Regions from separate parts of the Homo sapiens genome. Here region 2 is linked to region 1. The links come from fine-mapping of genetic effects on gene expression. Tissue or cell type: whole blood. Region 1 holds a variant in brackets; the other region holds the start of a gene. All regions are shown on one strand. Distances are from middle to middle.

Region 1 (8,186 bases):
TCCTATTTCTCCCCTCTTACATGAAAATCTGGAAAAGGCAGGGCATGACGGTTCATGCGTGTAATCCTAGCACTTTAGGAGGCTGTGGCGGGAGGATTGCTTGAGGCCAGGAGTTCAAGACCAACCTGGGCAACAAAGTGAGACCTAGTCTGTACAAAAAAATTTAAAAATTAGCTCAGCATTGTGGCACATGCCTGTGGTTCCAGCTATTCAGGAGGCTGAGGCTGGAGGATCATTTGACACGAGGTCAAGGTCACAGAGAGCTATGAGCTATGATCACAACTCTGCACTCAGGTCTGGGCTACAAAGCGAGACCCTGTCTCCCAAAAAAAAATCTGGAAAATGATAAAGTTAGTTTATCTCCATTTTAGTTTCTCAAAGCAATCAAATAATGAATATTCCTCTCTTCCTGATTTTCTACACTTAATAAATTAAGATTAGGTAGTTTTTACAGTTACTAGGAGATACCATATCTTTGGAGGTAATCTATTTGTTGCTCAAGTTACTGAGACATGACCAAATATATAAGACATATATCAAATCTAATACATTCTATAAAACAACTCCTGTTAAAAGTATATTTTAAAGCATCAGTCCCCAACCTTTTTGGCAACTGGGACTAGTTTTGTGGAAGATAATTTTTCCATGGACGGGTAAGCGGGAGGATGGTTTCAGGATGATTCAAACACAGTCCATTTATTGTGCACTTTATTTCTATTATAATTACATTGTAATATATAATGAAATAATTGGCTGGGTGCAGTGGCTCATGTCTGTAATCCCAGAACTTTGGGAGGCCAAGGTGGGTGGATCACCTGAGGGCAGGAGTTCCAGACCAGCCTGGCCAACATGGTGAAACCCTGTCTCTACTAAAAATACAAAAATTAGCCAGGTGTGGTAGGACGTGCCTGTAATCCCAGCTACTTGGGAGGCTGAGGCAGGAGAATCACTTGAACCTGGGAGGTGGAGGTTGCAATAAGCTGGGATCGTGCCATTGTACTCCAGCCTGGGCAACAACAGAGAACTCTAGAGAGGAAGGGAGGAAGGGAGGGAGGGAAAGAGGGAGGGAGGGAAGGAATATACAACTCACCATAATGTAGAATCAGTGGGAGCCCTGACCTTACAGTCCCATCTGGGATGATGGGAGACAGTGACAGATCATCAGGCATTAGATTCTCATAAGGAACATGCAACCCAGATCCCTTGTATGCACAGTTCACAATAGGGTTCATGCTCCTATAAGAATCTAATCCCACTGCTGATCTGACAAAAGGTGGGGCTCAGACAGTAATGTGAGTGATGGGGAGCAACTGTAAATACAGATTAAGTTTTGCTTGCTTGCTCGCTGCTCACCTCCTGCTATGCCAATACCAGTCATGGCCCAGGGGTTGTGGACCCCTGTTTTAAAGGACTATACTAAATCATAAAGTTCTTCGTTTACTCAATGAATTGTTTCTAACACAAAAATAAAGGTGCAACACTTCAGAGTTCTAATCCTGGAAACAGCGTGGATGGTTTCAAGTAATCACACTAAAGCCAAGTGTTGAGGGGAAAGCACTATTAGGATGCTAGATTCTTTGCTACTCGCCTTCATGAATCTCTTGCTAACGTAGCAAATGAAACTTAAGAACCAGAAATAAATAATTTATTAACAAGTCACTGGTTTTTTTCTTTTCTTTTCTTTTTTTTTTTTTTGAAATGGAGTCTTGCTCTGTCTCCCAGGCTGGAGTGCAGTGGCACGATCTCAGCTCACTGCAACCTCTGCCTCCTGGGTTCAGGTAATTCTCCTGCCTCATCCTCCCAAGTAGCTGGGACTACAGGTGTGTGCCACCATGCCTGGCTAATTTTTGTATTTTTAGTAGAGACAGGGTTTTGCCATGTTGGCCAGGCTGGTCCTGAACTGCTGCCCTTAGGTGATCCACCCAACTCAGCCTCCCAAAGTGCTGGGATTACAGGCATGAACCACCATGCCCAGTCAAGTCAATACTTTTAAGTATGCAATGGGCAACATATACGTAGTAGGCATATCATTATCTGACAAACAATACAAAATTTTAACATCATATTTTCATGGTACCTCCCATCTGTAGGTTTTTATCGATGAAGAGGATTAAAAACTACACATTATTGTTTTTATTTCAATGAATCCTAAATTTTGTTTTATTCTCAATAATCTTAATTAAAAGACTGTTAAGACTTTAAGTATCTTGCACTTTCCATCTGTTCACCACATTTTATTCACTAAGGATATGATTTAGGACTCAATTTTGTGACGGGAAAGGAGAACACATCTTTTCCAACACAATCAAGGTACAATACTCATGCTATAACCCTCTAAATCCCTAGGCCCATTTTTTCCTACTAATAGTTCTAAAAATCACGCTTGCCATTAAAAAAATAAAACTACCAATGTTTTGGTCATCTCAAACCAAAAGATCATATCACCCCTTAAATAAATTCTTTCCTCAAGAATGATCACATATTTCCACTCAGTTTATTTAAAAAGCTGCTTCCTTTACTCCATGAAGTAAGTATTCTCTTAGCAAGGAAGTGCTTTCCTCATCAACTATGATTAATGTTAGTATCATCTAATCCTTTGATTACTTCATAGGCAGGGGACCTATCTGACTATGAAAAATCAATGAGAAAAACCTGGACAATTCAGTTCCTCAGAGAAAAAAGAGAACATAATATCTATACTGGATAAAAGTTCCATTAATATCTCTTTTAGTAATAGTGATAACTGAGGTTTTTTGAGCTGTTTATGCTACATAAAACTCTCAGATTTTTCTAGACTTGAAATTAGAGGCCAGGCACAGTACCTCACACCTGTATTCCCAACACTTTGGGAGGCTGAGGCAGGAGGATTGCTTGAGTCCAGGAGTCAAGACTAGCCTAGGTATTAGGGCATAACTCTGCCTCTACTAAAAATATGAACAATTAGCCAGGTGTGGTGGTGCCATGCCTGTAGACCCAGCTATTCGGGGGGCTGACGTGGAAGAATCACTTAAGCCCAGTAGGTGGAGGTTGCAGTGAGCCCTGATCGTGCCAGGGTGACAGAGTAAAACCCTGTGTCAAAAAAATAAGTCTGTATTACTGGGTACAAAAATTAGAGAGTTAAGTTTAAAAGAGATAAAAAGGCATCAGCTAAGATGGCTGCATAAGAATCACATGAAACTTGTTAAAAACTTCACAAATTGGCAAAGTTTGGATAAGGTTCACAGATAACTATTGTATCAATGTTAATTTCATGATTAATTATATTGTAGTTACATAGGATATCCCTATTTTTAGAAAATACATATGGAAATATCTTGGGGAAAAAGAGCACCTGGGGGAAAAAGGGCATCCTATCTGCAACATACTATCAAATAGCTCAGAAAAAAATATAGATAGGTAGATAGATGGACAGACAGACAGGTGGGTAGGTAGAGAAAGAAAACAATAAAGCAAATGTGACAAAATATTAACATTTGGAGAATCAGGGTAAATAATATATATGGGAATTCTTTGTACTGCTCTTGTAACCATTTTATAAGTTTGAAATTATTTCAAAATAAAAAGTAAAACAAGGACAACAACATTACCAAGTAACACTGTCAAAAAATAGATTCAATAGGGTTTCAGACAGTGTTGACATCTGTATGTTTAAAACAATTTCCTAGGTATTTTTGATGTATGTGAGATCCACTGGCCTAGGGCACTGTAAATGAACAGTCAAATAGCATGCATAGCTTTCTTCCATCCATAAGTGAAAATAATATAAAATAAGAACAACTGCTGTGACACTGCTTCCATAAAAGGAGGTATGGGTTTTATAACTTGTTAGAGTTGCTTACTCTGTATTCAATTCACTTAACATTTACTTAACGCCTTTAGTATGTTAGAATAAGTTAGAATTAAATTATCCTTTACCTACTGTTGTCTGCTAAACACATTTTCAGAACATGTATAATTAGCTACTCTAACTGGCATTCCAAAGGCATCTTACCTCTGCAAATGTCTGAAGGAGGTTGTTTACTTGAGCAAAGGTCTGTGGAAGAATACCATCATAATTTGACCTTGTACTGAAAGCATGTAACAAACTTCTAGAATCCTGAAGCAAGAATTTGACTGTTGTAAAATCCACTGCCTTATTAGCTGGTAACAGAAAATTAAGACAGAAAAATATGGAAGAATGAGTATACATCATAAAAATGTCTTTGGAACACTAATATTAATTTTGAAATTTAAAAAGAGTATACATTTATA[C/T]CTATATGCCACTCCTAAGTTATCCCTCTGGTACAAAAAGCAATAATTAAATAGATTTAGTTATAGATAAAGTCCTTTGAGTTGATTCTGGTATTCTGAATTCAGATTTCAGGAGTTCTGTCAGCACGGTCAACTTCAAAGTAAAAGTAAAGTTAAAGAATATTACACTCCCCAGAAAAAAGAGAAAATCACCAAAGAAACAAGTCAAACCACAGATTTCAATGCTGAGGTGATTTCACATAAGAGTACTGTGGAGAGATCAGAAGAGTGAGACTACACTGGTAAGCATGTCAGTTATATATGGTACCTCTCGTCATCACCTCAGCTATCTACATAGTGATTTATCTTCAACTCCATTGCATGAAACTCAATACTATGTTTATTGAAAACTATGAGTTATCTCTATATGTACAACACAACTTCAGGAGAGAAAAAAAGTTTGGGCAACAGTGAGAAGCAAAAGAAGCCTGCAGAATTTTTTTCCTGTAAATTAAAAGTGAGAAAATCTACAAACAATAATTTAAAGGTATAACAATTTTATCTCAAGGAACTAAAACTAATTACATTAACTTCTCAAACTAGTTGGGAAAGCTGGTGACAATAATTTCAAAAATTTCAAAAGTTATAAACAATAAAATTAAGTAATATCATAAAACTCAGAACAGAAAAAATTATTTCCATTATTAAAGCAGAATGCTACCTAACAGTTTTCAAAATAACCATGCTATACTGTTGTTTACTTTTTGTTTTAATGTTCACAGTTTCAGAGACTCTATTGTATTCTGAAATATCAGCATGGCTGTTCAATGGCACTATGAGTTTAAAAAACAATAAGGAGTTTCTCTGTATCACTTACACAAGAACTTGCTTGTGAAATCCTGAAGGGTCAAGTGAAATAAAAACTATATCTTAATAATTAATTCCACAATATTCAGAAACTCTAATCTAATGTAATGGTTGTAGCCAAGCCTCTGGCTTCTCCTTTATCCAAAAATATAAAAAATAATAATAAAGCAAGCCAATGTATTTCCTTACAGGAAAACTTTCATTTCTTTTTAAAGCCAATGACTAGTTTAAATTCCTGTGGGTAATGAGAGATGCTACACACAGGACAGACTGTAGATGTGATGAACTACGTAAATCCCCTGAGGAAGATATAATTGGACACAACTTCTTTTAAGGGTGCTTTTCCAATGTAACATATGTTTAATGAGGCTTACATATATGAATTAATCATTTTATTTCTGTCTTACAAAAGTTCCTAAGATTATGAGGAAAAGGGTAATAACAATAATAAATCCAGTATACAGACACAACAAAAAAAGAAATCTACATGAATGAAATAGTCTAATGCTTATATAAGGCCAATAATTATTTAAAGCTAATATGGGTAACAAAGTCATAAAAGTTACTAGTCATTTTCCACACAATTTTCTATGAACTAATCTAAGGATACATGCGTGGTATTCTCAAGTTAAACAAATATATAATTCAACAGCTGAAGGTATTATTAAAAGATAGTACACAAGAACATAAACTGTGATTTTTCTCATTCAAAATTATCTTACAGCAAGAAGTTTTTTTTTTTTTTTGAGACAGAGTTTCACTCTTGTTGCCCAGGCTGGAGTGCAATGGCGCAATCTCGGCTCACTGCAACCTCCACCTCCCGGGTTCAAGTGATTCTCCTCCCTCAGCCTCCCGAGTAGCTGGGATTATAGGCACCCACCACCACGCCCAGCTATTTTTTTTGGATTTTTAGTAAAGACAGGGTTTCACCATGTTGGCCACGCTGGCAATGAACTCCTGGCAAGAGGTACTTTTATAATCCCATGACATATTCTTCATAACTCATTAAACGTTAGGCATCAGATTCTTCGAGATCAAAGACCAATAAACTATAATGATCACAAAACTGATTTTTCAGCAGAAGATACAGTCATCACATCTTCACTTCTCTCCTTAATGGCAGTTAGAGCTGCCACCTACCACCTCTCAGCTGCGTCTAAGAGCAGACCCCCCTGCCAGGAAAAACAGATGGAAGATGGCAACTAGACACCTCATTTTTTACACTAACTTTGAGATCACACATAGTTTACGGACTTTCTCTTTTAAAAGATCAACTAAATTATGACCCAGGTAAAAGATATGAAAAGAGATTCTACATGCTTTATTTTTTTTATTTTATTATTATTACACTTTCAGTTTTAGGGTACATGTGCACAATGTGCAGGTTTGTTACATATGTATATATGTGCCATGTTGGTGTGCTGCACCCACTAACTCATCATTTAACATTAGGTATATCTCCTAATGCTGTCCCTCCCCACTCCCCCCACCCCACAACAGTCCCTGGAGTGTGATGTTCCCCTTCCTGTGTCCACGTGTTCTCATTGTTCAATTCCCACCTATGAGTGAGAACATGTAGTGTTTGGTTTTTTGTCCTTGCGATAGTTTGCTGAGAATGATGGTTTCCAGTTTCATCCATGTCCCTACAAAGGACATGAACTCATCATTTTTTATGGCTGCATAGTATTCCATGGTGTATATGTGCCACATTTTCTTAATCCAGTCTATCATTGTTGGACATTTGGGTTGGTTCCAAGTCTTTGCTATTGTGAATAGTGCCACAATAAACATATGTGTGCATGTGTCTTTATAGCAGCATGATTTATAGTCCTTTGGTTATATACCCAGTAATGGGATGGCTGAGTCAAATGGTATTTCTAGTTCTAGAACCCTGAGGAATCGTCACACTGACTTCCACAATGGTTGAACTAGTTTACAGTCCCACCAACAGTGTAAAAGTGTTCCTATTTCTCCACATCCTCTCCAGCACCTGTTGTTTATAAAACCGCTTTGGAGAGATGTCCAATATGTTGCTCCATGTCCTTCATATAATCATATCCCTAATAAACAACTTCTACAACTGAAGGCAATGACAGGAAAGTGCCGTTCCTTAAAAAATTGGTAACTTATAAAAATAGATATTTGGATGGTTGTAGATGTGTGGTGTTATTTCTGAGGCCTCTGTTCAGTTCCACTGGTCTATATATCTGTTTTAGTATCAGTACCATGCTGTTTTTGTTACTGTAGCCTTGTAGTATAGTTTGAAGTCAGGCAGTGTGATGCTTCCAGTTTTGTTCATTTTGCTTAGGATTGTCTTGGCTATGTGGGCTCTTTTTTGGTTCCATACGAAATTTAAAGTATTTTTTTCCAATTCTGTGAAGAAAGTCAATGGTAGCTTGATGAGGATAGCACTGAATCTATAAATTACTTTGGGCAGTATGGCCATTTTCACTATATTGATTCTTCCTATCCATGAGCATGGAATGTTTTTCCATTTGTTTGTGTCCTCTCTTACTTCCTTGAGCAGCGGTTTGTAGTTCTTGACGAGGACCTTCACATCCCTTTTAAGTTGTATTCCTAGGTATTTTATTGTCTTTGTAGCAATTGTGAATGGCAGTTCACGCATGATTTGGCTCTCTGTTTGTCTGTTCTTGGTTTATTGGAATGCTTGTGATTTTTGCACATTGATTTTGTATCCTGAGACTTTGCTGAAGTTGCTTATCAGCTTAAGGAGATTTTGGGATGAGATGATGGGGTTTTCCAAATATCGATCACGTCATCTGCAACAGAGACAATTTGACTTCCCCTTTTCCTAACTGAATACACTGTATTTATTTCTCTTGTCTGAGTGCCCGGGCCAGAACTTCCAATACTATGTTCAATAGGAGTGGTGAGAGAGGGCATCCTTGTCCTGTGCTGGTTTTCAAAGGGAATGCTTCCATCTTTTGCCCATTCAGTATGATATTGGCTGTGGGTTTGTCATACACAGCTTAAGAGCTATTTATTTATTTTGAGATACGTTCCATCAATACCTAGTTTCTTGAGAGTTTTTAGCTTGAAGGGCTGTTGAATTTTGTCCAAGTAAATGG
Region 2 (8,186 bases), 57 kb after region 1:
CTCTCTAAGCCTCAGTTTCTTCATCTGTGTAATTGGAATAATAGTACCCACCTCATACAGTTGTGAGGAATAAATAAAACAATGCAAGTAAAAAACCGGAAAAGCAAATGACTTTTCCTGGATCGGCTGAGCAGAACAAAATATTTACATAAATCATTATAATAGTAAGGTGTATTTTTTTCATTAAGCAAAAATAAATTGAAATGTATCTCTAGGTCAGTAAATCAAAATTCTTACTTTTTCACCAAAATTGGGTGATGAGGTGGTGGTGTCTTTCCTCTGAGATGTCTCTTTTTTCCCACAGGATTCTTTGCTGGACATCCTGAAAAGCTAACATAAACATTAAAAATATAGGATTTGTTTTTGCACTCAAAAAGAAAATAGAAATTTGTCTTCTTTCAGTTATATAAAGATTGGAGTTTTACAATATGATCACTTTTTATTTTATTTTATTTTTTTTTGAGATGGAGTCTCGCTCCATCGCTCAGGCTGGAGTGCAGTGGGATGATCTCAGCTCACTGCAACCTCTGCCTACCGGGTTCAAGCAATTCTCCTGCCTCAGCCTCCTGAGCAGCTGAGATTACAGGCATGTGCCACCATGCCCGGCTAATTTTTTGTATTTTTAGTAGAGACAGGGTTTCACCATGTTGGTCAGGCTGGTCTCGACCTCCTGACCTTGTTATCCACCCGCCTCCCAAAGTGCTGGGATTACAGGTGTGAGTGACCACTCCCAGCACTATGATTACTACTTTTTAACCATTCCCAATATGACAAGATTCTCTCATTATTCCACTTTTCTTCACTTTCATTCTCCTTCAAAATTACCCACTCCTCTCCTTCAGCTTCATCTATCACCTTTCCAGGAATGAGTCTCAAACCATGCCTTGATCCCTGACTTCTCACTTAAGCATCAGATCACCATTTTCAACTGCCTCCAGGACTGCTATATTCTTCACCACCCACACTTCAAAGCCAATTAGTCATAAGTTTCATTTTCCCAAAATACCTTCAGTCATTCATTGAACAAGACTTTGGCAAATCACATGCTTTTTTTAAGTCTTTGTGTCATTACTTGTAAAATAGATAACCCATCCCACAGGGTTTTTGAGGTACTGAAACAATGGATGTAAAATATATCTTGTGGCTGGGCACCACGGCTCACTGTAATCCCAATACTTTGGGAGGCCGAGACAGGCGGATCACCTGAGGTCAGGAGTTCAAGACCAGCATGGCCAACATCATGAAACCTCATCTCTACTAAAAATACAAAATTAACCAGGTGTGGTGGTGCATGCCTGTAATCCCAGCTACTCAGGAGGCTGAGGGAGGTGAATCGCTTGAACCTGGGAGGCAGAGGTTGTAGTGAGTAAGATTGTGCCACTGCACTCCAGCCTGGGTGACAAGTGCGAAACTCCATCTCAAAAATTTAAAAAAATATAAAAAAATATTAAAATACATATATATATGTACATATACATCTTGCATAGGTTGGTACACAGTAATGTCTACATACATACTTGCTTGTATGGTTGTCTTTCTACTAGACACTGAGCTCCTTGAGTGTGCCGTATTAAAAACTTAGGTGCTCATAAATGCCTACTGAGTGAATAAATGAGTGAATTCTTCTTCCTTGGAATATTAACTCTTTCATTCTGAACCACTTCCAATTCACTCACTGTAGTTCCTCTGTCCACCTCCCATCCCCGTCTCACTTTTCCAGCCCTGCTGTGGACCAAGTCAATACTGTTAGTGGATGACAGTATTGTGGACTATCCCAGAAAAACACTTATGTTTATGTTTATTCGGACAAATGTTGTATATTCATACTAGTGTGAAATTCCTATTGATTTTATGCAAATCAAAACATAAATGAGGGGAGACTTCATGTGCTGGCCAGTCTTCAAGATGGCTCCTGATGATTCCTGATGCTTGGTAATCATGCACTTAATGTAATCTGCTACCACAATGAATAAGGCTGACCTGTGTAATCAATAAGATATTACTGCTACATAGTGGTATGTGGCTAAATCATATAAGATATCATGACGTCTGCCTTGTTCTGTCTTGGACTGCTCACTCTAGGGAAAGTCAGAGTGTCATGAGGACACTCAAACAGCCCATGGAAAGGCTCGCAAGGGAAGAACTACTGGCATCTTGCCAACAACCAGAACCAACTAACAGCCAGGCATGTGAGTGTGTTACCTTTGAAGCTGATGATCCTGCACCCCTAATCAAGTGACATGACAGCAGCCCTGGCACATATCTTCACTGCAACCTCAGGAGACCCAAAGCCAGATCAACCCAGAAAGTCATTTCTGAGTTCCTGACCCACAGAAACTGTGGAGTAATAAATGTTTACTGTTGTTTTAAGCTACTATGTTTTGGTATAACTTATGCAGTAGCAATAGATGAATAACATTATTTAATTCTTCAAACATTGACGATTCCTTCTTCAGGATGTCTTACAAGCACAGACCATGCTTAGAAATTCTTACAAAAATTCCCACAGAATCCAGACACTAAAATCTGACCCTTTTAATCTGGTTTCCAGCTGGTGTTAAATGACATTAACATACTGAATCTAGCTTTCAGTTAACCATCTAGTCATTTAGAAATAAAAAATCATCATGAACGACAGTAAAAAAAAAAAAAAGAAATGAGAACAAGAATTATTGGATGATGCACAGATATAGTTAGCATTTCTGTAAGTTATAGTCAGTGTTATCCCATTTTTAATTGACTGTTGAGCCATGAGTCAACTACACATTCAGGAATACTAGATAAAAGCTGTACGGGACGATCAGTAAAAGGGATTTAGGACTATAACTCACAGAAGCTCCACAGGGATAATCTGTTCCCATTAAACTGGGGAGAGGTTAAACACACACACACACCCCTCCAGATATATACTTCTTAACTATAGGGGGAGGAGTTAATTTCCAGTTAGTGCTTCAAAGTGCCAAATAATCATGCTATCTCTTCCCCGGGGTTCTGAAACAAGTAGGAAACAAATAGACCAAGAAGATTGGCGTTTATCAACTTAATTAACTAAGAAAAGCTAACTGGAAGCGCGCGTCTTGTTCTTGAGACTAAATTGGGCTTCCCTCTCCTGCCCTGATGCCTAGAAGGTTCGGACCAAGCCCAAGCAGGGCAGCCAGAAAGTTCACGTTTTTCTCCTTTCTGTCCCAGTGGATTTATCGCGGGGGGACAGAAGAAAGAAACAAGAAAGGCTCGAATGTCAAGTAGGCACTAAGAGTGAAGGGGAGAGAAGTACGGGGGACAGGGGACTCGCTAGCATATGTTTTGGGGATCTGAAACGCATCAAAATTAAATGCCCCGAAGCTCTACCCACTCAGAGCTCTGGTTATTAAAAGCCTGAAAACAAAGCAAAATAGAGCAAAACAACTAATTTCTATCCACTGGCCACACCGCAGAACTGCTGATACTGGCAACATGAAGACTAAAGCAAAAATAAAAACAAAGGAAAAGAGTGTTCGGGTCACGGTGTAGGTGAGGGTGCGAAATGAAGAACAGACCCTAATTCCAAGTCAGCTGGATGGACAGGCAAGCTCGTCAGCTGCTAGTAAACCGCCGCGGGCCCGCGGGCTCCGCACGAACCGACCAGACCCCAACACCGGGCAAGGGGCAGCCCCGGAGGCAAGCCGGGCCAGAACCACACCCTCCACGGAGCTGGCTCGTCCCCGGACCCGCCCACAGAGTCGCCCCGCCCAGGTCCGTGTGACTCCTGAGTCCCCAGTCCGGCCGGCCGCCCGCCCGCCAGTATACTTGGGGCGGGGGACGAGGGGGAACCTGCCCAGCAAAACGTCAACGCACCCCGCAGTTCCTACCTTACCAGCGCCGGCGGCAGTGGCAACTCCGGAGCCCCAAGCCAAAGGAGAGGGACCCCCGCCTCCCAACACACACACACACCCCGCCCCACCAACTGTATGCCTGCTGGGAAACGTAGTTCTGCGCCCGCATCCGCACTACCTACTCACCGCCCCACAGCGCTCGCTTAGATTTGCATTTACTTCCTCCGAGGCTTGAACTCCGGCCCCGCCCCCAGACTGCGCAGTGTATCCTGGGTGCTGTAGTCTTTGTTCGGTTTGGTGGTTGGCCGGTGGGCCGGAGACGCACCGTAGAAACCGAACCCTCTTACCCAATTGGACGCCGTCCCCAGTACGCTTCTGCGCAGTTTGTGGTGGCGTCGTAACGCCTCGGGGAAAGGGAAGCGGACGGGCATCTGGAATCGCTGCCTCTGGCTTTCTGTTTTCTACTAACAGGATTTGGTCACTGGTTCTTCATCTTTTGTCTGTTGCACGCATCCCGCCCTCCCCACTTGCTTCCCCACTCCTTGGATCCAGCCCTGTGGGCATTCACGTCAGTTCTCTGACCCCGCCGTGAGCCCCGCTCCGGGTCCCCGGGCGGGCTTGGCACGGAGGCGGTAACTATGGAGAATATGGCGGAGGAGGAGCTGCTGCCCCTGGAGAAGGAGGAGGTGGAGGTGGCCCAGGTCCAGGTCCCGACCCCGGCCCGGGACTCGGCTGGGGTCCCAGCTCCGGCCCCGGATTCGGCTCTGGACTCGGCTCCGACTCCGGCCTCGGCTCCAGCCCCAGCCCCTGCCCTGGCCCAGGCTCCGGCCCTGTCCCCGTCCCTAGCCTCTGCCCCTGAGGAGGCTAAAAGCAGTAAGTGCAGAAGGCCCAGATCTTTCTGCTGCAGAAGAGAGAAAGTGCGCCTTGCTGGGAAGTAGGGGAGGCCCTTCACCGGGATGGTTTTTATGGGGCAAGGCAGGTTTAGGAAAATGGTGGGGAGGAAAGAGGGGCCCGTGTAGCGGCTAAAGCAGGGTTACAGAATGGGAGACGGCATCTTCATAAGCCTCGAGGATGTCACGGTGAGGGATATGCGGAGAGCAGGAATGCTGCAGATAGAAGGAAATAATGAGGTTAAGGGCTTTTTCTTAAAAGGGAGTCTTTTTAAGGTACAAAAATAGGAAGTTACACATAATTTGGTAGTTTCCCGCAGTCCAGTCTGCCATGGTTAACTAAGTTCTTTCAAATGTGACATAGTAACCGAGGCAACCTGTTTACGGTAGTAGATCCTAGCTGCCAACATTTCTAAACCATTACTGTCAACTAGCTTTTCTGCTTCGACAGCCACAAGGAGATGAGTTTTTCTCATTTCAGTTTTCTTTTCCCCCGCTAGCAGCTTGCCTCCGAAAAGATTTTGAGGCTGAGTAGTAGTTTAGGAAAGAGTCGACTAAATTTACGGATGTTTTCCCCCATACATAAATACCAATTGAGTTTTGTACTCCATTCCATCAGAAATAGACTGTTGAGAATTAATGGCCCATATTATTGTGCTTCTGAATGTGCCTGCATGTTTTCTAAGTGGTGGTTTATTGGACCATATAGGAATTTAAAAGACTGATGAGTAACACTTTCTTAAGGATCTTCTAACATTTTAAAATGTAAGGTCTAAGAAAGACATAATTTAAGTTCTTTTAACATTTAGTTTGTGGTCATAAGTTGACCTTTATGTGCTTTCTGAATTGGAACTTAAAATAATCTTTAATTCATTATTTTTTCTACTTCTAGGCCAGTTTTGAGTTTAATATTTATAAAAGGTTAGATAGTTATAGATAGGATTATTTTGCAGTTTTGAAACAACATACAAATTGTTATAGATTTCAGAGTAGGGCTAATCACAGGAAAGACAAAAGTCAGAATGCTTCAGGTAAGCCCCTTCTCATTATATAAGATCAGAGCTTGTAGGTACAAAATAAGGCCAGTTGTTTCTTCAACTACAGTGGGTAGGGATCGGGGAGGCATGGGGAGCTGAGAGGGTTCCACCCTCCTAAGTAGCCTCCTACCTCACTTCGAAGTTGTATTTGTTTATATTAGTCAGAAGTGGTTCAGCAGCTTTGGGAAATGCATGCATTCTCTACCTCCTCACCATCAAAAATATGTTAAACATAGAAAAGACTTATCTATATATTCCAAAATTTACAAATATGTAATTTGAAGAAGGTATACTATATGGGAAACTGAAAATGCATTAGTAGGACAAATATGTAATGATTGAGAAGTCTGAAATGCATTAGAACTAATACATATATTAATCACATTTTAAACATTATTTTTAGTTGATCTAGTTAGTCCTTTGAAATCAGTCATAACTAGGTAAGATGAAGATAGCCTATCTGAAATAGAATTGAAAATTGAGGAAAAAGTAATAGAATAAGTTGTAAAAGACCCTCCTAGCATCTTGGAGACATCTAATTTAACAAGAAGTTTGCCTGTTGACTTCTGGATTAATAGTGTGTTACAAAAAGCAGATTGAGTATTTTGCATACAGATTGTCTGATACGCACTATCTTAAACCAGAAGGTGATTTCAGAGATGTTTATAGGCATATCATGCATTTTTAAACAGATCTTCAAGAGTTTCTTCAGTAGTAGACCACAGGATTTTTAGTTTTCTAACTTAACCAAGCTCCTTTCTCTTATTTTGTGCTATTTAATAGAATAATTTCAATAGGCACGTCTTTATTGATTGCTGTTTATCTTGTTTTACATACACAGATCTTTGAACTCTGGAACCAAAAGCCTTTATGGTTACAAATTAGATAGGTTAGTTTGTACACATGGATTCATTTCTGGAATATTGCTGTCTGACCTAGCAAAAGATTTTTATGAAACATGAAGAAGTTTTACCTGTTTATAGAAATTATATCTCATTATAACTCATTTGACCAGTATCTGATATAGGAAATTAACCAATATTGTTTGTTGCTTCTTTAAAAATGAGGTGAATAACCAGGCACCAGCCTATACTCCCAGCTACTCAGGAGGCTGAGGCAGGAGGATTGCTTGAGCCCAGGAGTTTGAGGCTGCAGTGAGCTATGATTGAGCCACTACATTCCATGGAGGCTGGGTGACAGAGCAAGACCCATCTTTAAATAATAATAATATGAAAAATTACCTTTTAATAAATTTGAGCAGGAGTGTCTGATAGTGCTGAATTGGATTCCAAAATTATTGACACAGTGTGCTACTGCATCCAAAAAGTCTAACAATTTTTTTAACTTCTTGTTTAACAAACTTTAGTGCCTCCTATCTGCAAGCTACTGCATTAGGCACTTAGCCATCAGAAAGATGAACAAGAAATAGGCCTTGTCTTCTGTTGATTATTTGTGGGGAAAGCGAACAAGGACACAAATTATACAAATGGGTAAACGAACTGATAGTGAAGCTCGGAGAGGAGTAGTCAAGAAGGTGCTAATATCAAGAATTGAATTTTAAAGTCTCAAGGTTTTAAATTGTATAACCTAATAACATAATATTAGAGAGCCCTGTGGTTTATCCCACCATCTCCTGTCTCCTTGGGCTCTTTACATATCAGTTTCTCCTAATCTTAATATATATTCAGTCCCCACTTTGTAATTGTTCCTTTCTCTTGGAATGCACATATATTCAGGTTCCCCATACTTAAAAAAAAGCAAGTTACAGTCTGATTCATTTCCTTTTTTATACCGTCAAACTTCTCAAAAAAAGAAAAACCTAATTTTCTGTATTTCCTTTCCCCTTCCAATTCTGTTTCTACTCTGAAACACCTCCCTGAACCTGTTTTCTTAAAGGTCACCAGATGTGCTTTCTTGATCTCTACAACTGTTTGTGATATTCAGTGTTGAACGTTTTGCGTTTATAGACTCTTCTCCCTTGGCTTCTGCATTACCTTGATTCCCCTTACCATTTATTCTTTCTGAATCTACATTCCTGATTCCTTCTACTTAATTTTTCTTATAAATATCTACATCTCTCATACCTCACTACCAGATTATATCTATCTATAATAATCAGTAGCGGGTTCAGCAACAGGTAGGGAATGTATCCCCTACCCACCCCAGTCAGAACATGTTAAACTTATTTTAGACTTATTCATGTATTTCCAAATTTAATTTAATTTGAAGAGTGTGTAATGCTTGAGAAACCTGAAAATGCATTAGTGGGACAAATATGTAATGATTGAGAAATTTGAAATGCATTAGAATTAAAATATAAATCACATTTTAAAATTAATTTTACATAGCCTAGTTGGTTGTTTGAAATCAGTCATAACTAGGTAAGACTGGGTCTTGGCTTTTTCTCTTATTTTTCACACTTTTTTTCTTAGGCTTTCTTATTTATT

Evidence for each region. PIP is the estimated chance that this variant, and not a neighbour inherited with it, causes the effect.
Region 2: TRMT1L starts here. The variant in region 1 is fine-mapped to the expression of TRMT1L in whole blood (INTERVAL, PIP 0.99).

The regions. Positions count from the first base shown.
Region 1 is chr1:185,210,461-185,218,646 of GRCh38, reverse strand. It overlaps SWT1 (SWT1 RNA endoribonuclease homolog), which reads right to left. Exons shown (of 19, transcript NM_017673.7): 14 at 3,992-4,140. Among named protein-coding and RNA genes, the nearest start is that of SWT1, 57 kb to the right of the region's middle. The variant C/T (reference allele first, on the strand shown) is at 4,252.
Region 2 is chr1:185,152,977-185,161,162 of GRCh38, reverse strand. It overlaps TRMT1L (tRNA methyltransferase 1L), which reads left to right and starts at 4,210. Exons shown (of 15, transcript NM_030934.5): 1 at 4,210-4,685. The coding sequence starts at 4,451. SWT1 (SWT1 RNA endoribonuclease homolog) reads right to left here and starts at 3,996. Exons shown (of 19, transcript NM_017673.7): 1 at 3,849-3,996; 2 at 238-330. The coding sequence starts at 321. RefSeq lists silencers at 3,604-3,723, 4,464-4,713 and enhancers at 4,264-4,373, 4,217-5,122.